3 separate regions of the Homo sapiens genome follow, and all the other regions are linked to region 1. The links come from fine-mapping of genetic effects on gene expression. A gene starts in region 1. Each other region holds a variant in brackets. All regions are shown on one strand. Distances are between the middles of the regions. Region 1 holds the start of NUP85 (nucleoporin 85). Region 2 overlaps MYO15B (myosin XVB). Region 3 overlaps NUP85 (nucleoporin 85).

The links. PIP is the estimated chance that this variant, and not a neighbour inherited with it, causes the effect. A credible set is the group of variants that fine-mapping cannot tell apart.
Region 2: its variant is the best candidate, but not a certain one, in a credible set for the expression of NUP85 in anterior cingulate cortex (GTEx, PIP 0.59).
Region 3: its variant is the best candidate, but not a certain one, in a credible set for the expression of NUP85 in whole blood (INTERVAL, PIP 0.87).

What each region holds. Positions count from the first base shown.
Region 1 is chr17:75,201,545-75,211,688 of GRCh38, forward strand. It overlaps NUP85 (nucleoporin 85), which reads left to right and starts at 4,135. Exons shown (of 19, transcript NM_024844.5): 1 at 4,135-4,250; 2 at 6,983-7,076; 3 at 8,279-8,441. The coding sequence starts at 4,218. RefSeq lists enhancers at 2,940-3,874, 3,875-4,808, 3,967-4,146, 6,234-6,801.
Region 2 is chr17:75,609,770-75,614,769 of GRCh38, forward strand. It overlaps MYO15B (myosin XVB), which reads left to right. Exons shown (of 64, transcript NM_001395058.1): 22 at 397-490; 23 at 1,131-1,190; 24 at 1,832-1,889; 25 at 2,117-2,247; 26 at 3,029-3,124; 27 at 3,205-3,440; 28 at 3,524-3,702; 29 at 3,936-4,008; 30 at 4,430-4,591; 31 at 4,814-4,914. Among named protein-coding and RNA genes, the nearest start is that of SMIM5, 21 kb to the right of the region's middle. The variant G/A (reference allele first, on the strand shown) is at 2,275.
Region 3 is chr17:75,226,711-75,236,854 of GRCh38, forward strand. NUP85 (nucleoporin 85) reads left to right here. Exons shown (of 19, transcript NM_024844.5): 12 at 4,630-4,713; 13 at 4,863-4,928; 14 at 5,118-5,269; 15 at 6,141-6,258; 16 at 6,348-6,448; 17 at 7,927-8,078; 18 at 8,390-8,491; 19 at 8,868-9,048. The coding sequence ends at 8,969. It overlaps GGA3 (golgi associated, gamma adaptin ear containing, ARF binding protein 3), which reads right to left. Exons shown (of 17, transcript NM_138619.4): 17 at 9,889-10,144. Among named protein-coding and RNA genes, the nearest start is that of NUP85, 26 kb to the left of the region's middle. RefSeq lists a silencer at 7,941-8,104. The variant T/C (reference allele first, on the strand shown) is at 4,012.

The DNA of each region.
Region 1 (10,144 bases):
AAGTGCTGGGATTACAAGCATGAGCCACCGTGCCCAGCCCCAAATAACCTTTTAATAAGAATTCTGCATAAAAATTATTTGTGAGGCACTTCTTTTATTCATTTAAATCTCCTTTTTGGTGCTTATATAAAACACATCTCTCTTGATTATTTCTTGGAAGTGTAATTATGAGGACAAAAAGATGAACATTTTCAAACTTTTTGAAATAATTTTTCATGTCCTGTCAGTCTTCATAGTTATTTTAAACAGGTGAGTAAAGTAACATCTCACTGATATAATTTATTTAGCTAACTTCTACGGTTGAACATATATACCAGCAGCTCTTAACAGAGGTGATTTTGCCCCCTAGAGGACACTGGGAATATATGCAGATATTTTCAGTTTTCACAATTGTGGGATGTTATTGGCATCTAGTGGGTAAAGGTCAGAAGTTGGAGTTCTTGTTCTTGGTGGGGTGTTGTTTTGTTTTGTTTTGTTTTGTTTTTTTGAGTTGGAGTTTTGCTCTTGTTGCCCAGGCTGGAGTGCAATGACGTGATCTCATCTCACCACAACCTCTGCCTCCTGGGTTCAAGCGATTCTCTTGCCTCAGTCTCCCTAGTAGCTGGGATTACAGGCGGATGCCATGAAGCCCAGCTGATTTTTGTATTTTTAGTAGAGACTGTGTTTCACCATGTTGGTCCAGGCTGGTTTCGAACTCCTGACCTCAGGTGATCTGCCCACCTCAGCCTCCCAAACTACTGGGATTACAGGTGTGAGCCACCGCACCCAGCCTGTTTTTTTGTTTTTGTTTTTTTTTTTTCTTTCTGAGACGGAGTCTCCCTCTGTCACCCAGGCTGGAATGCAATGGCATGGTTTTGGCTCACTGCAACCTCCGCCTCCCGGGTTCAAGTGATTCTCCTGCCTCAGCCTCCGGAGTAGCTGGGATTACGGGTGCCTGCCACCATGCCTAATTTTTGTAGTTTTAGTAGAGACGGGGTTTCACCATATTGGCCAGGCTGGTCTCGAACTGCTGACCTCGTGATCCGCCCACCTCGGCCTCCCAAAGTGCTGGGATAACAGGCGTGAGCCACTGCGCCTGGCCATATTGTTGCTTTTGAAACAGGGTCTTGCTGGAGTATAGTGCTATAACAATCGTAGTTCACTGCAGCCTTGACTTGAACTCCTGGGCTCAAGAAATCCTCTGGCCTCAGTCTCCTTCCTCTTGCTGTAGCTAGGGCTACAGGTATGTGCCACTAGTTCCAGCTAGAGTTTTTTTTTTTTTTTTTTTTTTTTTTTTTTTTTTTTTTTTTGAGAGGGAGTCTTACACTGTCGTCCGGGCTGGAGTGCAGTGGTATGATCTTGGCTCACTGCAACCTCCGCCTCCAGGGTTCAAACGATTCTCCTGCCTCAGCCTCAGTAGCTGGGACTACAGGCGCACAACCGCCATGACCAAATAATTTTTTGTATTTTAGTGGAGACGGGGTTTCATCTTGTTGCCCAGGCTGGTCTTGAACTCCTGAGCTCAGGTAATCCGCCCGCCTCGGCCTCCCGAAGTGTTGGGATTATAGGCGTGAGCCACCGCGCCCGGCCTTTTTTTATTTTTTATTTTTTGAGACAGCATCTTGCTCTTGCCCTGTTGCCCAGGCTGAGGCCAGAGATTTTGTTAAATAATGTACACTGTGCCCGGTTCAGGAGCATTAGTTTTATTAGGCTGCATGAAATGTATCCACTTAAGACTTTACCAGGCTGGGTGCGGTGGCTCATGCCTGTAACCCTAGCACTTTGGGAGTCTGAGGCGGGTGGATCACCTGAGGTCAGGCGTTCGAGTCCAGCCTGACCAATATGGCGAAACCCCGTCTCTACTAAAAAATAAAAAATTAGCCCGGCGTAGTGGCGTGTGCCTGTAGTCCCAGCTGCTCGGGAGGCTTAGGCAGCAGAATCGCTTGAACCCGGGAGACGGAGGTTGCAGTAAGCCGAGATCGTGCCACTCCACTCCAGCCTGGCGACAGAGCAAGACTCTGTCTCAAAAAGACAAAAAAAAAAAAAAAAAAAAAAAGACAAAGAAAAAAAAAAGAGAGAGAGAGCTTGTTAGATCTTAGTGCTATATTTCCTTGATTATTTTTATTTTAAGGCTGACAAAATGCCATTTAAGATAATAAAAGTAGTTAAATTGCCTGACCAAGAGCTAGATAACATTGAGGAAAAAGTATTGGCAATATTCTTTGGTCTAATACTGCTATATACCAACCATTTTACCCAATCATTCAAATAGGCTTAGTAATACAAGGGCGAAAAAGGAAAACTACAGCTAATAGTGCTATCCTTGTTCTTTTTTTTTTTTGAGACGGAGTCTCGCTCTGTCGCCCAGGCTGGAGTGCAGCGGTGCAATCTCGGTTCACTGCAAGCTCCGCCTCCCCGGTTCACGCCATTCTCCTGTCTCAGCCTCCCGAGGAGCTGGGACTACAGGCACCCGCCACCACGCCCGGCTGATTTTTTTTTTTTTTTTTTTTTTTTTTTGTATTTTTAGTAGAGATGGGGTTTCACCGTGTTAGCCAGGATGGTCTCTCTCTCCTGACCTGGTGATCCACCCGCCTCGGCCTCCCAAAGCGCTGAGATTACAGGCGTGAGCCACCGCGCCCGGCCTATCCTTGTTCTATATACTGATTACGCATACTATATATGGACCTTTTCCTTCCTCAACCTTTCTATAGATTTCTAAGAATAAGGTTTTGATGAAGTAGTTTATGTATCCTTCTTTTTCAGTTAATCCTAATGGAAAACGGTTGGAAAAATGAAACAATTATCTTACAACTTATTTTTCTCTTTCCTCTCCTCCCCTCTCTCTAAAAGAGTGTGGCTCCTTCCCCTCTCTTTTCCCCTTCCTCTCTCTAGAGTGGTTAACTCTCAAACTGTATTTAACTCTGGAAAAGTTTTCAATTACACAGGCGATAACTCCAACTTGAGGTATAACGGAAACTTATTAAGAGAAAAAGAGCAAAATAATTTTTTTTTGAGACTCAGCAAAATAATTTTTTTTTTTTTGAGACGGAGTCTCCGTCTGTCGCCCAGGATGGAGTGCAGTGGCGCGATCTTGGCTCACTGCAACCTCCGCCTCCCGGGTTGGAACAATTCTCCTGCCTCAGCCTTACGAGTAGCTGGGATTACAGGTGTCCGCCACCACTCCCGGCTAATTTTTGTATTTTCAGTAGAGACGGGGTTTCGCCATGTTGTCCAGGCTGGTCTTGAACTCCTGACCTCAGGTGATCCAACCACCTCGGCGTCCCGGAGTGCTGGGATTACAGGCGCGCGCTACCAAGCACAGCTAATTTTTTTTTTTTTTTTTGAGACGGAGTCTCGCTCTGTCTCCCAGGCTGGAGTGCAGTGGTGCGATCTTGGCTCAATGCAACCTCCACCTCCCGGGTTGGAACAATTCTCTTGCCTCAGCCTTCCGAGTAGCTGGAATTACAGGTGTCCGCCACCACGCCCGTCTAATTTTTTATATTTTTAGTAGAGACGAGGTTTCATCATATTGGCCAGACTGGTCTTGAACTCCTGAACTCCAGTGATCCACCCACCTTGGGCTGCCAAAGTGTTGGGATTAGAGGCTTGAGCCACAGCGCCGGGCCTTCAGGGGTATCGATTTTGTTCCCGTGCCTCTTGTGTGTGTTCTAGTGTGGAAGTGGAGGCGATTGCTTTCCAGCACAAGCCCGTTTGACTGTCGGGGTTTGGACAAGTGGCTGCGACGACACTAAGGTGGAGACCGGGATGTAGCGAGGACTCCCAGAGTTGGGAGACGTTGTACGCTTACTGGGACCTAAATCCCGCACGAGTTCCCACCCAAGTGCCGCCGCCCCAGCCTACGCACGCGCATTCGCACCGTCTCCAGCCCCGGGGTCCTCCTGCCCCTCCCGCCGTCTCCGGGGGCCTTTTCTCCGCTCGGCACCAGGGTGTCCCCGGCGCCGCCTGATCCTGTTAGCGCGGTACTCTGAGTGCAGTCAGTCCTCGGCGCTGTTTTCCCTGATTTGCTGTCGACGCCAGGAAGGAAGGACGCGTGCAGAGGACCGCAGAGGGGTGGCCGTGGCTGAGAGGAGACAGCGCCGCAGCACTGAGGGTTTGGGCTTGCAGGCGCTGCAGGAGACGCCCAGGCGGAGTCTTGTCTCGCAGCCAGCTCTGAGCGGGAGGCCTGAGCGGGAAGCATTGGCGTCCGAGCGACTTCTAGGAGCCTGGGGTTCGGCGCTATGGAGGAGCTCGATGGCGAGCCAACAGTCACTGTAAGGGTACCCCGAACAGGCTTGCTCGTCCTTGCGGGTTGAGAACTGCGTCTGCTTAGTTACTTCAGGCTTGTCTGCTTCCCTAGTGGTCGCGAGGCGCTCGTCCCCTTCCCTCGACTCAGTTGCCACTTTTCCGGAGGTCGCAGTGTTAACGAGGTGCCCGCCCTAGGGTCGCAGTGGTCGCGGGGTTTCTGCCACCAGTCACAAACCCCGGCCTCGAAGGTCCCACTCCGTCCCTTTCCTTCCTTTGTGTTCCTGGCCTTTTTACTTCCCTTGCTTTTCCTCTTGGGCATTAGAGTGGGTTCAGCCCAAGCAGAGGAATTTATATTTTTATTCCAGCCGTATTAAGCTCTGCATCGCGGCACATTGAGCTTCTGCCTGTGTGGCCTAAGGTTTATTCAACGTATTATCTCAGGAGACTATTCCTGTTTTATCGCTGTGCATTCAATTCCATTTGAACTTTGAAGACAGTATGTCAACTGTGGATGATCTGTGATGTGTATAAAAAAAATTCACGCGCTTTATGTACGAGATACCTACCGTTTCTGCTAGTTGGATTGCTCTTGTTTTCCCTCTTGTTAACCAGAAGTGACTGAGGCAGGTCTCAACCGATAAAGGTTTAATTAGCTAAGGTTGAGGATCCAACCGGGAAAAAGCACAGGTCACAGGAGGATCTGAGACCTGTGCTTTTTCCAAAGATGGTTTTGGGAACATCACTAGTTAAAGAGGAAGGAGCTAGCAGGAGGGGCAAAAAAGGGAGGTTAGGCAGTGAGGAGGCAAATGATTACATTCTTGTGAGTCGGTGATTAGCCTCAGTAAATCTGCATTTTACCTGTGAAAAGAGGGAGCAGAGGAAAATTTTATGTATGCATTCATCTCAGGGTAGGTAGAGGGATTATGGTTATTATTACTGTTATTTTTTAGACGGAGTCTCGCTCTGTCTCCCAGGCTGGAGTGCAGTGGCGCGGTCTCGGCTCACTGTAACCTCCGCCTCCCGGGTTCACACCATTCTCCTGCCTCAGCCTCCTGAGTAGCTGGGACTACAGGTGCCCGCCACCACGCCCGGCTAATTTTTTGTACTTTTTTGTATTTTTAGTAGAGACGGGGTTTCACCGTGTTGGCCAGGATGGTCTCAATCTCCTGACCTCGTGATCCGCCCACCTCGGCCTCCCAAAGTGCTGGGATTACAGGCGTGAGCCACCGCACCCGGCCGATTTCTGGTCTTTTACTTGTGAAGATAAGCTGGTAGTTGACATTGTCAGAATCAACAGATCTTGATTTTAGGACTAGTTTATAGGGGCGATGTGTATCCTGAAAATTTTAGAGGCTCACAAGGAATTTCCTTGTGAGCAATTTGTGAGGGAAGCTCTCTGGGGAGATATGTGGCCTTCTTTTTTTTTTCTCTTGAGGCGGAGTTTCCCTCTTGTCGCCCAGGCTAGAGTGCAGTGGTGCGGTCTCGGCTCTCTGCAACCTCCGCCTCCCAGGTTCAAGCAATTCTCCTGCCTCAGCCTCCTGAGTAGCTGGGATTGCAGGCATGTGCCACCATGCCCGGCTAATTTTGTATTTTTTTAGTAGAGACGAGGTTTCTCCATGTTGGTCAGGCTGGTCTGGAACTCCTGACCTCAGGTGATCTGCCGGCCTCAGTCTCCCAAAGTGCTGGGATTACAAGTGTGAGCCACTGCGCCTGGCCTCATTCTTTTTTTGAGACGGATTCTCACTCTGTCACCCAGAGTGGAGTGCAGTGGCGTGATCTCAGCTCACTGCAACCTCTGGCTCCTGGGTTCAAGCGATTCTTCTGCCTCAGTCTCCTGAGTAGCTGAGATTACAGGTGCGTGCCACCACACCCAGCTAATTTTTGTATTTTTGGTAGAGATGGGGTTTCACCATCTTGGTCAGGCTGGTCTCCAAAGCCTGACCTCGTGATCAGCCTGCCTCGGCCTCCCAAAGTGCTGGGATTACAGGCATGAGCCACCGCGCTTGGCTAGGAGTTCGAGATCAACCTGGCCAACATGGTGAAACCCCATCTCTACTAAAAAAATACAAAAATTAGCCTGGTTTGGTGGCGCGTGCCTGTAATCCCACCTACTCAAGAAGCTGAGGCAGGAGAATCACTTGAACCCAGCAGGCAGAGGTTGCAGTGAGTCGAGATTGCGTCACTGCAGTCCAGCCTGGGCAACAAGAGTTCGAACTCCTGACCTCAGATGATCTGCCCGCCTTAGCCTCCCAAAGTGCTGGCAGGAGCCACCCCGCTGCCGGCCCAAAATGAATTTTTCTTACCAGTGTTATAAGGAAATGTTATTGAAGGATACAGTGTTATTAGAGGACCAGCTGTGCTCTTCACTTAAAGTGTTTTTCAGCAGGGCGGGCACGGTGGCTCGCGCCTGTAGTCCTAGCACTTTGGGAGGCTGAGGCGGACGGATCACCTGAACTCAGGAGTTTGTGACCAGCCTGGGCAATATGGTGAAACTCTATCTCTACTAAAAATGAAAAAAAAAAAAAAAATAGCCGGGTGTGGTTGCACACACCTGTAGTCCCAGCTACTCAGGAGGTTGAGGCAGGAGAAGCCTTTGAACCCAGGAGGCGGCGATTGGAGCAAGCTGAGATTACACCACTGTACACCAGCCTGTTAGAGTGAGTCTTTGTCTCAAAAAAAAAAAAAAAAAAAAAAGAATGGAACAACTTCAGTAAGAAGAACATTTTTCATTTTAGATTTCTATGCCTTATTTTACTAGTTGATTCCAGGCGTGAATTCCAAGAAGAACCAAATGTATTTTGACTGGGGTCCAGGGGAGATGCTGGTATGTGAAACCTCCTTCAACAAAAAAGGTAGGGTTTTTTTTCTTCCAAATTATCCATCTTGGCACATTTGGTTGTTTTTCTGTTTATTACCTCAGATTTTACTAGTTGTGGACTGAAACAGTTGAATTTATTTTGTACTATTTTAATTTTCTCTATTTTGTTTTCAAGATACAACAGGGTTTTGTTGTGTCACCTGGGCTGGAGTACAGTGTGATCATGGCTCACTGCAGCCTCTACCTCTTGGGCTCAAGTGATCCTCTGCCTCAGTCTTCCTAGTAGCTGAGACTACAGGTCACCATGCCACCACGCCCAGCTAATTTTTTTTTCTTTGTAGAGATGGGAGTCTCATTTTGTTGCCTAGGCTGGTCTCGCACTCCTGGCCTCAAGCGATCCTGTTGCATTTTGGCATTTTTATTTTTGAAATGTTAGCTATTTTAGATTTTCATTGATTTTTGAGATCTTGAAGATGTTGAATCCCGGAAAAAAATTAATAGTTTTCATGAAAAATTTTCTTCATATTTAAAATGTCAAGCTTTTTATCCCTTTTTCTTTGTCCAAAGTGACCAAATTCCTATCAGTAGCTCCCTTATTGTGAACCTTGCAGATGCTTGGCCGTCACTTTTGTGTCCACAGCATGGATTCAGCTGAATAATAGTTCTGTAGGCTGAGCTGAGCCGTAGCATCCAAGGCACAGATGGAGCTGGAGAGTGACATAGCTTGTCCTTGGCTTGATTTTCCTGAGTTCCATCAGCTATTGGATAGGATGTGAATCTTTTTCTTTTCCTGATACAGTGATACAGTCTCCTTCCAGTAGAAGGATAAAACTGGAATCTTGACATTTGATTTGCTTTCTTTTTTTTTTTTTTTTTTTGAGACGGAGTCTCGCTCTGTCCAGGCTGGAATGCAGTGGTGTGATCTCGGCTCACTGCCACCTCCGCCTCCCGGTTTGAAGCAATTCTCCTGCCTCAGTCTCCTGAGTAGCTGGGAATGAAGGCATGTGCCACCACGCCCAGCTAATTTTTGTATTTTTAGTAGAGACAGGGTTTTGCTATGTTGGCCAGCCTGGTCTCGAATTCCTGACCTCGTGATCTGCCTGCCTTGGCCTCCCAAAGTGCTGGGATTATAGGCAAGAGCCACCATGCCCGGCCACAGAAAATTTTTTTAGAGTAGATTCACTTTTGGAGATGATCATAATAGATGTTAAATTTTTTTTTTCTGTTTGGTTTCAGAAAAATCAGAGATGGTGCCAAGTTGCCCCTTTATCTATATCATCCGTAAGGATGTAGATGTTTACTCTCAAATCTTGAGAAAACTCTTCAATGAATCCCATGGAATCTTTCTGGGCCTCCAGAGAATTGACGAAGAGTTGACTGGAAAATCCAGAAAATCTCAGTAAGTTGGTTGCTGTTTGGTGTTGAAGCCCACACTACACTGTGGAAAGCCAAATGAAGTACATTGTTGTCTTTTTGTGTGTTTTATGGGTTGCGTAAAGAAATAAGAGACTCCTGGTTCTAGTTGAGGCATGAGTACTGGACAGTGTACATTAGCAGTGATGGGAAGACTTAGCGGGAATATGCAAATGCTATTGATGGGCTGGCTTGACAAGCTTTATTTATATTCATATTTTACTTAGCCTCTAAAGAAGAAAATTTAGGCCACACAAGCATGTGAGAGTCGTTGAATGAGGTCACATTGTTGGGAGATTTGAAAATTAATATAAACCTAACAGTTTTGTCTCTAAAAAATTATGGTTCAGACGTTATTTGACAACAGACCAGAAAACTCTCGTACTATTTATAGATTAGGATTTTCTTGAATTGTAGTTCATAACTTCATCATTATCAGAGTGGTACTTGTTAATTGTAGACTTTTGGGACCCACCTCAGATCATCAAAATCAAAATCTCCGTGGTTGGATCTTAAAATCTCCAGCACACTGAAGTTTAAGAACTCCTGTGTTAGATTTTTGTCAGCGTCCCTTCACATGGATGGCTAGGGAATGGGCAGTGTTGGTATGTTACTTCTTTGATAAGCTTTTCACAAATGAATCATTCTGGACAAGACTCAGGTCAGCTTCTGTGTGAGTGTGTGCAAGAGTGATTATTGGTTGTTTTTCTGTTTTTTTTCGAGGCAGAGTTTCGCTCTGTCACCCAGGCTGGAGTGCAGTGACGCGTTCTCCGCTCACTGTAAGCTCTGCCTCCTGGATTCACGCCATTCTCCTGCCTCAGCCTCCCGAGTAGCTGGGACTACAGGCGCCTGCCACCACATCCGGCTAATTTTTTGTATTTTTAGTAGAGACGGGGTTTCACCGTGTTAGCCAGGATGGTCTCGATCTCGTGACCTCGTGATCCACCTGCTTCGGCCTCCCAAAGTGCTGGGATTACAGACGTGAGCCACTGTGCCTGGCCCTGTTTTTTTTTTTTTTTTTGAGACAGAGTTTCACTCTGTCACCCAGGCTGGAGTGCAGTGGCGCAATCTTGGCCCACTGCAGCCTCTGCCTCCTGGGTTGAAGCCATTCTCCTGCCTCAGCCTCCTGAGTAGCTGGGATTACAGGTGCGTGCCACCACGCCTGGCTAATTTTTGCATTTTTAGTAGAGATGGGGTTTCATCATTTTGGCTGGGCTGGTCTTGAACTCCTGACCTCAAGTGATCTGCCCACCTCAGCGTCCCAAAGTGCTGGGATTATAGGAGTGAGCCACTGCACCTGGCCTGATTATTGGATTTAAGGGACTCTAGTGGAGAATATTGGTGAGTTTGAGAAATCTATTGTCACTTCTAGGAAAAAAACATGTCAAAAGTCCTGTAATTCCTTGCTGGCAGGGGACCCTGTCTTATTCTTTTTTTTTTTTTTTCAGATGGAGTCTCACTCTGTCGCCCAGGCTGGAGTGCAATGGCATGATCTTGGCTCACTGCAACCTCCGCCTGCCGGGTTCAAGAGATTCTCCTGCCTCAGCCTCCTGAGTAGCTGGGATTTTTGTATTTTTAGTAGAGACAGGGTTTCACCAGGTTGGCCAGGCTGGTCTCAAACACCTGACCTCAGGTGATCTGCCCACTTTCACCTCCCAAAGTGCTGGGATTACACGCCTGAGCCACCGG
Region 2 (5,000 bases), 410 kb after region 1:
ATCTCGGCTCACTTGAATCTCCACCTCCCAGGTTCAAGTGATTCTGGTGCCTCAGCCTCCTGAGGAGCTGGGATTACAGGTGTGCTGTAATTTTTGTATTTTTAGTAGACGGGGTTTCACCATGTTGGCCAGGCTGGTCTTGAACTCCTGACCTCAAGTGATCCACCCGCCTTGGCCTCCCAAAGTGCTGGGATTACAGGCATCAGCCACCGCACCCGACCCTTGCTTTTCTTTTGAAGTATCCTATTCTTTTCCTGTCGTTTCTGTGAAGCATCCAGGGCTTCTCTGGTCCAAAGTCAGTTTTTACATGAATGTCAGGCTTAAGGGATTCCAGTGCCAGGCAGGAAGCATAAGTTTGGACTCTTCATTTCGCCCCCGCTCTTTCCCGGCCTCCAGGAAGCGGTACCTCCGGCGGCGGGCAGCTTTGGGACAGCTGAACACCATCCTGCTGGTGGCCCAGCCCCTGCTCCAGAGGCGGCAGAGACTGCAGGTGCAGGGGCTTGGGTGGGGCGGTTCAGGGTAGAAGCCAGGCTGCCTGAGCTGGCCGAGCTGGCCAAATCCCAGCAGCGTTGACCCTCTCAGCCCGGCCTCGCACGGGCTGTGGCTTCAGACACAGTGCTCCTTGAACTCATCCCTTTTCCCTCCGGCCGGGGTAGGCCGGGGCCCTTGGGAGGTGCTGTCTTCCTCCATCCCTGCCTACTCTCCCCAGGGCCTGGCTCTTCCCTCTTGCCTGGGGTTCCCATCCCCTCCAGGCCTCCCCTGGGCCCCGTCCGCTCCCCTCTTTTGCATGATGACTCAAATCTAAGGTCTATAAAGCGACTCAAAGGTCAATGCCCACGTGCTACCCCCTCTCTGGCCCCTCCCTGGCTGGACTTTGTCCCCTGGGACCATTTCTTCCCTTCTTCCTGCCCTCTTCCCGGTGCCCTGGCAGATGGGCACAGACGCCCACAGTGCTAAGGCTGGTGAGGGCCCTGGAGGGCCAGGGGTGGCTGGCCCCTCCTGATCTGTTCTCACTCCTTTGCTGAGAACCTCCCAGGGGCAGGAGGGGACAGCTGAACTTCAGAGCTGGGGAGGTGCCCCCAGGTGACTCACATGGGAGGCATCAGCTCTTCCCACATCTCTTCCAACAGCTTGGGCGTTGGCAGGGCTGGCATAGCAGCGAAAGGGCCTTGGAGAGAGTGCCAAGCATGGTAGGTGGCCTGGAAAGTGGGGGGTTTTACATGGGGCTATGAACCTGCTGAGACTGGGACAGCTTAGAGGGCTGCCAGGGTGCTACCGTGGGTCTTGTCCCTCAGGGCCATGCATTGCACCTCCTGAGAAGAGGACCGGGGTGCTCTTGGCTCTTGGTTTCCCTCAGAGGGTCTTTGGGGCTCTGTTTGTTCGAGTGTCCAGGGTCAGAATCCTTGGTCTTTGGCTGGGTGTGGTGGCACACACCTGTAATCCCAGCACTTTGAGGTCGAGGTGTGAGGATTGCTTGAGCCCAGGAATTTGAGACCAGCCTGGGCAACATGACAAGACCCCATCTCTACAAAAACAATAAAAATTAGCTGGACACAGTAGCACATGCCTATAGTCTCAGCTACTCAGGAGGTTTGAGGTGGGAGGATCGCTTGAGCTAGAGCCTCAGAAGTCAAGGCTGCAGTGAGCCATGATGGTACCACTGCACTCTAGCCTGGGTGACAGAGTGAGACCCTGCCTCAAAAAAAAAAAAAAAAAAAAATCCGTGGTCTTTGGAAGGGATGTTTATAATCTTGGGGTTGAGGGTGTGGGGAGGGACACTGGTCCCTAGGCCCCTCCTGTGGATCCTGGGTAAATGAGTCCCCTCTGCCAGGAGCTGGGGCGCTTGGAGATCCCGGCTGAGCTGGCCGTCATGCTGAAGACGGCGGAAAGTGAGTCTTGTTGGTGTCCTCTTGTTAGGACTCCTTCTCCAGTCCCTTTACTGTGGGGTGTGTCTGTCCCTTGTGGTTCCTCCCTCTGATGCTCCAGACTCCCCTGAGCTCATCACTTGGGTCCCTGTGGACAGGGGCTGATGGCTCGTGGTGAGGGATGGAGGTGGTCCCAGGGCCAGGTACCACACCTGGATGCTCCTGGGCTGCCTCCCGGTGCTTGTTCCCAGGCCATCGGGACGCCCTGGCTGGGAGCATCACCGAGTGCCTGCCGCCTGAGGTTCCTGCCCGGCCCAGCCTGACTCTCCCAGCAGACATTGACCTGTTCCCTTTCTCCAGCTTCGTCGCCATCGGCTTTCAGGTGGGCGCCCAGGCCTAAGCTCTTCCC[G/A]CTGGCCTCACCGCTCTGAGTTAGCACCTGCCTGACAGATGCTGCGTTTTTTTCCCCGCTGTCAGCTCTTGCCCTCCTTCCTCCCCAGCCTTTGGGGCTGTGAGTAGCGCTGAATTGCTCTGAAAATAACCGTTGAATGTAATTGTCTCACCATAGAGCGTTACTGGAGATAACAGTTGGTGTTATTGAATGGGAGACGTTATTTAGATCCACGATGCCACACCTTTGTTGTACCTGCGGTAGTGCCCTGCTTTTGAAGTCATGACCTTAAAGAATGTTTATTGACAAGGGAAATTGTCCAGACTTCAGCAGTAAATACAAATGCAGGTTCAAAACTGCACATACAGGTTGGACATGGTGGCTCATGCTTGTAATCCCAGCACTTTTGGGAGGCCGAGGTGGGTGGATCACCTGAGGTCAGGAGTTTGAGACCGGCCTGGCCAACATGGTGAAACCCCGTCTCTACTAAAAATACAAAAATTAGCCAGACATGCGCCTGTAGTCCCAGCTACTCAGGAGGCTGAGACAGGAGAATCACTTGAACCTGGGAGGTGGAGGCTGCAGTGAGCTGAGATTGTGCCACTGCACTCCAGCCTGGGCGACAGACAAGACTCTGCCTCAAAAAAAAAAAAAAGGCATTAAGATGCATTTCTGTCCAGCCCCTCTGCCTCTCCCGAGGTGCCTGCTCCGGTGGGGCTCCCCTGGGCTGTCTGATAGCTGGTGAGCATGGACTGAGCCCTCTCCTTCCTTGCAGGAACCGTCCCTGCCCAGGCCAGGGCAGCCACTGGCGAAGCCCCTAACCCAGCTGGATGGAGACAACCCTCAGCGTGCCCTGGACATCAACAAAGTGGTGAGTGACACATTGGAGAAGGGACAGGATAGGCGCCTGGGAGCCCCGCACGTCCTGTCCTTACCCGGCTGTGTCGGCAGATGCTGCGGCTCCTGGGGGACGGATCCCTGGAGTCCTGGCAGAGGCAGATCATGGGCGCATACCTGGTGCGGCAGGGGCAGTGCCGGCCAGGGCTGCGGAATGAGCTCTTTAGCCAGCTGGTGGCCCAGCTATGGCAGAACCCAGATGAACAGCAGAGCCAGCGTGGCTGGGCCCTCATGGCTGTTTTGCTCAGCGCCTTTCCCCCACTGCCTGTCCTACAGAAGCCACTGCTCAAGTAAGGGGCCTGGGAGGTGGGGACCTGGCAGGTGGGGTCGCTGGATCACCCTGCCTCCACTGCAGCCTGTGCCCGCCCTGCAGGTTCGTGTCTGACCAGGCCCCCAGGGGCATGGCAGCGCTGTGCCAGCACAAGCTGCTGGGGGCCTTGGAGCAGTCGCAGCTGGCCTCGGGGGCCACTCGGGCCCACCCCCCGACCCAGCTGGAGTGGCTGGCCGGATGGCGGCGGGGCCGCATGGCGCTGGATGTGTTCACCTTCAGCGGTGAGGGCTGCCTCTGGCTGAGGCCTCCCAGGCCTGAAGTGGGGCCAGCCCTACCCCTTTGCCCTCCCTGGAACCCCTTCCTGCCCCAGTCTTCCTGCTGCCCTGTCCTCAGTGACCCTGATCCCCCTCCCCTCTGTCCTGCTTTTGAAACTCTCATGGGGACAGCAGCCCCTTCCTGTCAGGGTGGACTCTGCTGTCCCTCACTCTTGCCCCCGCCCCCCATGCCCCTGCAGAGGAGTGCTACTCGGCCGAGGTGGAGTCTTGGACCACCGGGGAGCAGCTGGCTGGGTGGATCCTGCAGAGCAGGTATGGGGACCGGGGATGGGGGACAGTGTGGCCAAAGTGACCCTTGTCCTATACCCTCCTCCTTCTCCAAGCCCAGTCTCAGGGGCCGGGAGGAGAGGTGCCCCGGGGTGGGCAGGGGCCAGACTGCAGATGGCGATGGGGAGCCGGGGGCAGATTAGGAATGAGGGGCTTGGGAGCTCCCACGGCAGATTCTAACTCAGCAGGTCAGAAAAGAAATGCCCATGCTGGAGCCCTTGTGGAAGTGGAGGGCCGTGAGGTGAGGAGGGGAGCAGCCCCCACTGCTGAGCAAACCTGGGTCCCGGACCAGGCGGATCCAGGGCCACCCTCCCTTCCTCAGCCCCCTGCCCCCTTGGCCCACCCTGTGGTCCTTGCCCCCTTCTGGATGGCCGCCTGCCTCACTGACTGGTCCCCTCCCACCCAGAGGCCTGGAGGCGCCTCCCCGGGGCTGGTCTGTGTCACTGCACTCCAGGGACGCATGGCAGGACTTGGCTGGCTGCGACTTTGTGCTGGACCTGATCAGCCAGACTGAGGACCTGGGGGACCCAGCTCGCCCCCGCAGCTACCCCATCACTCCTCTTGGCTCGTAGGTGCCACCCAGCACCCCTCTCCCTGGCCTGCTCCTGCCGGGGAACCCCACAGCCACCCTGCCACACTCAGGGGTTTATAGGAGCTGCCACAGGCCCAGCCCTCCCACCCAGCCTCCTCCCAACCATGGGGTGACCCCCGCAGCAGCTTCTACCTCTTGCCCCAGCCTGGGTGACCCTCAGCCTTGGCCACCCCCTTAGCTGGATCCCGTTTCCTGCAGAGCCGAGGCCATTCCCCTTGCCCCTGGCATTCAGGCCCCCTCACTGCCCCCAGGACCCCCTCCAGGTCCAGCCCCAACGCTGCCCAGCAGGGACCACACAGGTAAGGCTGGAGTGGGCACATGGAGGTTGGCAGAGCATGGGAAGCCCCACGCCCCGGGCCATGGCTCCAACCCTCTCCCTGCCCCA
Region 3 (10,144 bases), 25 kb after region 1:
AGGGCTACCATATACATAACTGTTTCCATTTCAGGGATGTTCATTTAAAATAACATCGCGGGAAACTACTTTGACATTTAAAATCTAGAAAAAGCCAGCAAGCCTGTTTCTTGGCACCTAATGGACACCTTATGGGATGGCGTGTTCCAAGAGTCTCACTCCAGTGACGTGAGCTACCGAACCACTGGGCTTCAGGCTGGGTATTATTCAGAATTTCCAGCCCTCTATCCAAAAGAGGGTGTTCTATGATTGCACTGAATCTTTAGCAAGGCAGGAAAGGGAGTGCCAAACATAATCAATCAAAGGTAAACCTTTCCAGAACTCTCCATATATGGTAAGTCAGAAAGAAGGTCCCCTTCCTTGTTGTGCACCCTGGATGGTGGGCATTGCACTGAAGACGTGCTGGGAAGGGAGGAAGTGGGTAATGGCAGAAGATGGCCTTGATCAGGTGTCAGATTCACTGACCTCAACTGGCTGTTTGTAGATCTGGGCATGGGAAGAGTTTCCTTCGCCCTACCTGCTTTTCTTGTTTTGGCCAAAAGAATGCCAGGGCTTCAAGAAAATGATACTAGATTTGGGGAATGAAAAACAAGTTTTTTGTGTGTTTGTTTCTGGGTTTTTTTTTTTTTTTTTTTTTTTTTTGAGACAGAGTTTTGCTCTTGTCACCCAGACTGGAGTGCAGTGGCGTGATCTTGGCTCACTGCAACCTCCACCTACTGGGTTCCAGCAATTCTACTGCCTCAGTCTCCCAAGTAGCTGGGATTACAGGTGTCCGTCACCACGCCCAGCAAATTTTTGTGTTTTTCAATAGAGACAGGGTTTCACCATGTTGCCTAGGCAGGCTGGTCTGGAACTCCTGACCTCAGGTCATCTGCCCATCTCGGCCTCCCAAAGTGCTGGGATTACAGGCGTGAGCCACCGCGCCCTGCCAAGTTTTTTTTTTTTGAAACAGGGTCTCACTTTGTCACCCGGGCTGGAGTGCAGTGGAGTGATCTCAGCTCACTGCAGCCTTGACCTCCTGGGTTCAAGTGATCCTCTTGCCTCAGCCTTCCAGGTAGCTAGGACTACAAGTGTGCGCCACCATGCCTGGCTAATTATTATTTTTTTTTTTGGAGAGATGAGGTTTCACTATGTTGCCCAAGCTGTTCTTGAACTTGTGAGCTCAAGCGATCTGCCTGTCTTGGCCTCCCACAGTGCTAGGATTACAGGCGTAAGCCACCATGCCCGGCCTGAAAGTCAAGTTTTGTGTCAATATTTTCACAGGCCTGTAAACATTGTGAGAAGTCCCTGCATGGAAGAATTAGTGAGAATAACTTAAAAACACACAAACACACCATCGTTTGGCTTTGTTGGTGTCTCTGCCCATAGTTGAGTATTCTAAATTTCCTGTGTTATAACAGTGAGTGAGTTTCACCAGGGCTTCCTAATTTATAAGCCCTGTATCTGGATTTTTAGGAATAAAACAGATTTGAGCAGAAGAAGTCTGTTGGATGCAGGGAGTATAAAAGGGGAAAGCATCCTGCTGTTTCCAGTGGCAGAAGAGAAAGAGAAGTACCATGAAGAGGGGTGAACAACATCACTCTCGTGCCGGACACAGACAAGGAATGATTAGGCTTGCAGTCCCCCAGTCTCAGCCTCTCTCCACTCTCACAAGCAGGAAGGGATCTGAGCTCTGTTAGTGGGAAATCTTGGAGTTTGCATTTCTCTGATCACGAGGCTACCTCCTATCCTGTTTTGAAAGAGGAACAGAAAAGCAGAGCTTGTCCCAGGAATTGTGAAATGGGCTGCAATGTCTTCAGAGGCAGTAGCAGTTTTAGGAAGTGTGCCCTCCTGGCTCTGGGGAAAGGTTGAATTGGGGTCTTGTGGGCACTTGTTTTCTCATGGGATGTATCAGTCAGACCCATGCACAGTTCTGGGCGGCAGGGAAGTGTGTCTCTTTCTGGACTTGAGCCAGTGAGCTGTTGGCATGCCTTTTTAAAGGCATTAGAAAAAAGGTTTCTTTCTTTTTTTTCCTTTCCTGTTCACACCACCTTCATATGAACATGGAGAAGGGAGGTTTCTAAGTGGGCCCCTGATTTACTCCTATGTCAATAATCGTGCCAGACCCTAAGGGGCAGAAAAGGCAGCCAGGGGATCCTGACTCAGAGGCTGTAGTTCGTCAGCCCTGCTAAAGGGCCAGGGGTTTGTCTCTCAGTGCCTGGGTGGGCATGCTTGACTGCTAACCCCTTAGCTGAAAGGAGATGGCAGGAGTCCTCCACAGGGTCCCTTCTTCCCTCCTGGCTTACAGCTTCCTCTGAAGACGGGCCAGTTCCTTGCTGTCTGGCAAGAGGAAACAGCTGGGGTGCACTTCACTGGGAGTTGGGCAAGATGTCGGCAGTTTCCTGGTGCCCTTCAAGTCCTCCAAAAGTATCGAGCTAAAAGGTGACAAGTCTTCCTTCAATAACCAAGAAGAGTTCCAGCTTAATGTCTGCTGAATCTAGAATCTTCTGACTTGTATTTTGGCCCAGCCCACAATCTTGGATGCAGGGTGCAGCAGTGTTTACAAACCTCACACCCCATTTCCAGAATAGCAGGTAGAGGCACTGGAGCTTTGATTACTCCAGAGCCCCCAACAAGCAAGATGGGGCCTGGGTAAGGAGTTGACAGTGACCTTAGTACAGGACAAACAGCTCATTTGGGGCTACAGTTGCTTAGAGGGGTCACCTTCACCGTAGCTGGTCTTCCCAACTCCGCAGCGTTCTCTCGTTTTCAGCAGAGGGCTACTTTGGAGCTGATAATTAGGCCTTTCTTGCCTTGAATGTTAAGGATGCCCACCTGCTCTGTGTCTCGGCTGCTCACTCAGAATCCTTCAGAGTGAGAGAGAGACAGAGTGAGAGTGGGAGTGTGTGCGTGTGTGATCTAAGACCTAACTGTGTGGTTCAGGCCTGCTGGGCCCTGTAGAGAGACCGTGGTGGCTTTGTGCAGCACTATGTCTGGTCTCCGTCACTTGAGTTGTGTTGTTAGTTCTCTGCTCTCAGTGCTTGCTGCCTTCCAGCCTTGGAGGCTGCTGGATCCTTTGGGAAGACACCGGGCACTGTCTCAGCCCTTCCTTCCAGTTGTTGGTGGCTTTCGTGCAGGCTAAGGCTTTGGCTCCCTTAGCCTGGGTCCCCTATAGCCTTTTCACTGGCTTCTCCAATGGTTTCGACATAACCATCAGCTAGAAATCTGGGTAGCAACAGCTGTTTTGGGAAGCTGAGGTGTCCTTTCCCCTGGCCCAGCCCACTCCCTCCCATTTTTTTCCCCAGCTTTATTGAGGTGTGATTAACAAAGTAGTATGTATTTAAGGTGTACAAAATTTTTTTTTTTTTTTTGGAGACAGAGTCTTGCCCTGTCACTCAGGCTGGAGTGCAGTGGCACGATCTCAGCTCACTGCAGCCTCTGCCTCCTGGGCTCAAGCGATCTTCTGCCTCAGCCTTCCGAGTAGCTGGGACCACAGGCACACGCCACCACGCCCAGCTAACTTTTGTATTTTTGGTGGAGATGGGGTTTTGCCATTTTGGCCAGGCTGGTCTTGAACTCCTGAGCTCAAGTGATCCACCCGCCTCGGCCTTTCAGTGTTGGGATTACAGGAATGAGCCACTGCACCCGGCCAAGGTGTACAACATGTTTTTTGTTTTTTTTTTTTTTTGAGATGGAGTCTCACTTTGTCGCCCAGGCCGGAGTACAATGGCGCGATCTCGTCTCACTGCAAGCCCCGCCTCCTAGGTTCACGCCATTCTCCTGCCTCAGCCTCCAGAGTAGCTGGGACTACAGGTGTCCGCCACAACATCCGGCTAATTTTTTGTACTTTTTGTAGAGATGGGGTTTCACCGTGTTAGCGAAGATGGTCTTGATTTCCTGACCTCATGATCCTCCCACCTCGGCCTCCCAAAGTGCTGGGATTACAGGTGTGAGCTACCGCGCCCGGCCAACAACATGTTTTGATAGATGTATACATTGTGAAATTAAGCTAGTGACATCTGTCACCTCACA[T/C]AGTGACCCTTTTGGTGTGCGTGTGGTGAGAACATTCAAAAGCTACTTTCTAGCTGGGTGTGGTAGCGCATGCCTGTAATCTCAGCTACTGAAGAGGCTGAGGCATGAGAATTGCTTGAACCTGGGAGGCAGAGGTTGCAGTGAGTCGAGATCTCACCAGTGCACTCCCGTCTGGGTGACAGAGCAAGACTCCACCTCAACTACTTTCTGAGCGATTTTTTTTTTTTTGAGATATGGTTGTGCTCTCTCACCCAAGTTGGAGTGCGGTGGCGTGATCTCGGCCGATTGCAGCCTCTGCTTCCCAGGCTCAAGCAATACTCCCACCCCAGCTTCTCGAGTAGCTGGGATTACAGGTGTGTGCCACCATGCCTGGCTAATTTTTGTATTTGTAGAGATGGGGTTTTGCCATGTTGCCCAGGCTGGTCTTAAATTCCTGGACTCAGGTGATCTGCCTGCCTTGGCCTCCCAAAGTACTGGGATCACGGGCATGAGCTATCATCACGCCCGGCCCCATCTCTTTGAGGGACAGGACATGTGGGGTTTCTTGCTCACCCCCACTCTTGTGGGACGCGGCCTGTGCCCTGATTTTCCTTCTTGCCTTGGTGTCTGAATCTGCAGCATCGCCCTGAGCAACTGGTGGTTTGTGGCCCACCTGACAGACCTGCTGGACCACTGCAAGCTCCTCCAGTCACACAACCTCTAGTAAGTGGCCGGGAGGCACCGATCCTCCTCTTCTTACCACCAGGCCCCCGAGGGTGGTGTGAACTGAATGCCTGAAAGGGAGGTTGGGCTAAGGGGGCCCTGAACAGGGCAGGCCAGGAGTCTTGGTCTTTTGTTATGTTTTATTCCAGTTTCGGTTCCAACATGAGAGAGTTCCTCCTGCTGGAGTACGCCTCGGGACTGTTTGCTCATCCCAGGTAGGAAGGACCCCATGGGTGTGGGCTATGCGGGTGCTCTTCAGCATGCGGGTGCCATTGGAGCTTGGACTGTTCTCTCCCAGTTGGCTCCTTGAAGGCTTCGGAAGGGTCAGTGAAAGGGAGCTGTAGGTGCCAGTCCTCGGAGCCATGAGGCAGCACCTCATGTCTGTCCTCCTCGAACCTTTGCAGCCTGTGGCAGCTGGGGGTCGATTACTTTGATTACTGCCCCGAGCTGGGCCGAGTCTCCCTGGAGCTGCACATTGAGCGGATACCTCTGAACACCGAGCAGAAAGCCCTGAAGGTGCTGCGGATCTGTGAGCAGCGGCAGATGACTGAACAAGGTGAGCTGGCCCTGCTCCCAGCCTACTGTCTGTGGGACGCAGGAGTCAGGGGATCCTGAGGTCACACTTTATGCCTACCCCAGCCATCCTCCTCCTCACGAGCCACACTGGAGACGTGGGGCTGTGGACGCCAAGAGGTAAACTAAGAGATGGGATAATTACTTGGGAGGGACAGGAAAGCTAGGGATCCACTGGAACCCAGACAAAATCTACACGCCATCTGGAAAGGCCTGAGCCGCCCCTTTTCTCACACACTTGATTCCACGAGGTCAGGGCTGGGGTTGGCGCTGTTTCCCTGTCCAGGTGGGTTGCTATTGCTAGCTCAGCCTGGCTCAATGGGGAAGCAGTGCTGGAGGTGGCTCCAGAAAAGCAGAGAGAGTGGAATGAGGATGACCAAGTCTGCCCCTTCATTTCTCCCCTCACTGTTGAGTAATGTAAACATGAGTTATTACCCTGCAGAGAGGCAGTTGCATGTTCACGACCATTTCTGAAAGCATATGGTATTCACGATCCACAGGAAGATGTGATTTGAGGCATCTGGAGAGGTAATAGAAGAGCTGACACGTAGGGAGAAACACGTAGGGAGAAAAAAAATAGAAGAGCTGACATGTAGGGAGCAACGTTTTGCTCCCCTTGAAGCCACACACACTCATAGAGCCAGTCTTGCCGTGATGGGCACTTACACTCTTAGCAGATCCCAGACACTGTTAATCAGCCGAGTTTCCAGCTCTGCCGATCCAGCTGCATTTAGAGCCCAAAGAGTGGCTCTGCGGTGGAGTGAGGCTGTGAGGCCACTCCGGTCCCCACAGGGCTCAGGAATGGAGTGATTTGTGGAGTGAAAGCCGTTTACCTTTTCTTTTCCCCTGCAAAGTTCGCAGCATTTGTAAGATCTTAGCCATGAAAGCCGTCCGCAACAATCGCCTGGGTTCTGCCCTCTCTTGGAGCATCCGTGCTAAGGATGCCGCCTTTGCCACGCTCGTGTCAGACAGGTGGGTGCCGCTAGTGTTGGCTTCCCAGGGACTGGGTGGTTGAGGTGGGCCTGAGACTGCTGCTCTGATCTCTGGGCCGGGCCCTGCAGGTTCCTCAGGGATTACTGTGAGCGAGGCTGCTTTTCTGATTTGGATCTCATTGACAACCTGGGGCCAGCCATGATGCTCAGTGACCGACTGACATTCCTGGGTGAGTCTCTGGGTTTTGTGCCCTGTGCTTTGGGCACAAGTGGGTAGTTGGGGAGGTTGGAGGGATCACGTCAGACTTCTCCCAGCGCTTCCTTCATGTATTCCCATTGCATCAGTGGTCCCAGAAACATCCTCCGTCATGTCCAGGATCATGAGTTTGGCTGTCACATCTCCTTAGTGCCTCCATGTTTGTTTGTTTGTTTGTTTGTTTTTCTTTCTTTCTCTCTTTCTTTCTCTTTCTCTTTCTCTTTCTTTCTTTCTTCTTTTCTTTTATTTTTTCTTTTTTTTTTTTTTTGAGACAGAATCTTACTCGCTCTGTGGCCCAGGCTGCCAGGCTCACTGCAACCTCCACCTCCTGACTTCAAGCAATTCTCGTGCCTCAGCCTCCCAAGTAGCTGGGATTACAGGCACGCGGAACCACACCTGGCTAATTTTTGTATTTTATTTATTTATTTTTTGGGGACAGAGTCTCACTCTGTCACCCGGGCTGGAGTGCAGTGGCGTGATCTCGGCTCACTGCAACCCCCGCCTCCCGGGTCCAAGCAATTCTCCTGCCTCAGCCTCCCAAGTAGCTGGGACTACAGGCGCACGCCACCACACCCAGCTAATTTTTTGTATTTTTAGTAGAGATGGGGTTTCACCGTGTTAGCCAGGATGGTCTTGATCTCCTGACCTTGTGATCCGCCTGCCTCGGCCTCCCAAAGTGCTGGGATTACAGGCGTGAGCCACTGCGCCCCGCCTAATTTTTGTATTTTTAGTAGAGATGGGGTTTCACCATGTTGGTCAGGCTGGTCTGGAACTCCTGACCTCAAGTGATCCGCCCGCCTCGGCCTCCCAAAGTGCTGGGATTACAGGTGTGAGCTACTGTGCCTGGCCAGTGCCTCCATGTTTCTTCTTTTTTTTTTTTTTTTTGAGACGGAGTCTCACTCTGTCGCCCACGCTGGAGTGCAGTGGTACAATCTTGGCTCACTGCAACCTCCACCTCCCGGGTTCAAGCCATTCTTCCTCCTCAGCCTCCTGAGTAGCTGGGACTACAGGTGCATGCCACCATACCCGGCTAATTTTTGTATTTTTAGTAGAAATGGGGTTTCACCATGTTGGCCAGGTTGGTCTCAAACTCCTGACCTCAGGTGATCCACCTGACTCGGCCTCCCAAAGTGCTGGGGTTACAGGCATAGGCATGAGCCACCACGCCTGGCCTAGTCAATCTCTTTTAATCCATGACTCTTGTTATGTATTTTGACTCTGATGTTTCCCCAGATTTGGCTCTTCGGAGTTCTTCCAAGTCTGTTTTGAATGCTCTTGGTCTGCATCTCATTGGGACCTATGAGTTTGGAGACAGAAAAAAATCTCCTGCTTTGTGGAGTGGCTGGTCTGAGGTTTTTCTTCTCCTGTTTAGGGCCAGGGTGACTTTTGTAGGTGTCACTTGGGCAATTTGGGGGAATATGCAGGTTACTCAGTGCTCTTGTTTCGCCATAGGAAAGTATCGCGAGTTCCACCGTATGTACGGGGAGAAGCGTTTTGCCGACGCAGCTTCTCTCCTTCTGTCCTTGATGACGTCTCGGATTGCCCCTCGGTCTTTCTGGATGACTCTGCTGACAGACGCCTTGCCCCTTTTGGAACAGAAACAGGTGAAGGTTGCAGCAGCAGTGGTTTTCTTTGCTTGTCAGTCCCTGCTAGAGCTTAGTTGTATAGCTGTTGCCGATGTGCGTGTTTCCTCCTTTGTCGTTCTGCCTGTGCGCGTGTATTCCCCTTAGCGCCCTCTCTGGGATTCCAGACTCACACAGGAAACAAACACTGCTTGATTTGAAATGAGGTATTCGTATACAAAGCACACTATTGCGAAGGGTATGAAAGGAAGAACGTCCGAACATGGGCCCCTGCCCCAACCAATGCAGGCCAGGGCTGGGGGCAGCCAAGCAAGGCAGGCTCTCTTCCCTAGGTGATTTTCTCAGCAGAACAGACTTATGAGTTGATGCGGTGTCTGGAGGACTTGACGTCAAGAAGACCTGTGCATGGAGAATCTGATACCGAGCAGCTCCAGGTCATTTTCACTTTTGGGTTGATGGTTCCACATGGAGGTGGGAAAAGGCTCCCTCTATCTCAGGCTTCCCCTTCCCTCCAGAAACACTGGCTCCTATGGACACATGTGCCTCTGTTCCCCTTAACCTGTGTAATTCACACACCACCTTCTTTTAGGAGAAAATCAGGGATTCTAGTGTTCTCATCTCTACATTTTGTTCTTTGCTGTTCATCATTTCCAGTATGGCCCTTTGGTATTGCTTTCTTTTACATCGATAATTTGCTGGAAGCTACTATGAATGTTAAGTGCCCTCTACCTTTGGATTAGCTAGACCCTTCGGGAGTGTGAAAGGGCTCCTTCCTGCTCTTAGCTCATGCTGGCGCTCTCTGCTTTGCAGGATGATGACATAGAGACCACCAAGGTGGAAATGCTGAGACTTTCTCTGGCACGAAATCTTGCTCGGGCAATTATAAGAGAAGGCTCACTGGAAGGTTCCTGAGAACTGCTTCAATGTGGTATCTTTGTATGGCAATGTATATAGATTTTTTTAAAAGAATAAATGTTGTTTTGCAAATGTAGGTTCTTAGAGTCCACCCAGGGAATTTTTTATCTGTCTAGTCTGAACCTGAGGTGGTAAGAGATTAAAAAATGCTTGTTTTATGTTCTTTTTTTTTTGAGACGGAGTCTTGCACTGTTGCCTGGCCTGGAGTGCAATGGCACGATCTCAGCTCACTGCAACCTCCGCCTCCAGGGTTCACGTGATTCTCCTGCCTCAGCCTCCCAAGTAGCTGGGATTATAAGTGCACACCATACCCAGCTAATTTTTTTGTATTTTTAGTAGAGATGGGGTTTCACTGTGTTGGCCAGACTGATCTCAAACTCCTGACCTTGTGATCTGCCCGCCTTGGCCTCTCACAGTGCTGGGATTACAGGCGTGAACCACCACACCCGGCCTTGTTTTATGTTCTGATACGCAACTGTCTTCCTGTGCCTCCTTAGATAAGAAATCACCCCCCAGGTCGGGTGCAGTGGCTCACGTCCTGTAATCCCAGCACTTTGGGAGGATCCCTCAACCCCAGGAGTTTGAGACCAACCTGGGCAACATAGGGAGACTCCATCTCTGTTTAAAAAAAAAAAAAAAAAAAACCCCAAAGTTGTGGTGACTGCAGTGTCTTGGAAGTCTGAACAAGAACGCTTGGTGGTATACTTGTGCTTCTGAAATCTTGCCTCACCTCTTCTGGAACACTTAACATTTTGGTTATTTAGTTCCCTTAAAATATAAGCGTACAGGAACCCGCACTTTTAACAAAAACCTTGGGCAGTTCTATCATAGGCTGTCCTCATGTATATCTAGAATTCATAGGTGGTACCTTTTCCTCCATCAGGGTGAATGGCGTCTATACTAGGAAGATTCCAAGTACAGTGAAAATGGTTTTATTTAACATGCAGCAAAACAAGGGCAGCAGAGCTGGGATATCCAGTACAGCCATTTGCCACGAAGCACTGACCTCAACAGTAACGAGTAACACTCAAATAACTGTAATGTCTAGAGCATAACACAAAGTTCCATTTCCACATAGTAATTCCACAGACATTCCCAGGGCTGCAGCAGCCAGTCTCTGGAAAGCTCTTGGATTTATTCCTTAAGTAGTGAAAAATGATTCACTTTTGACT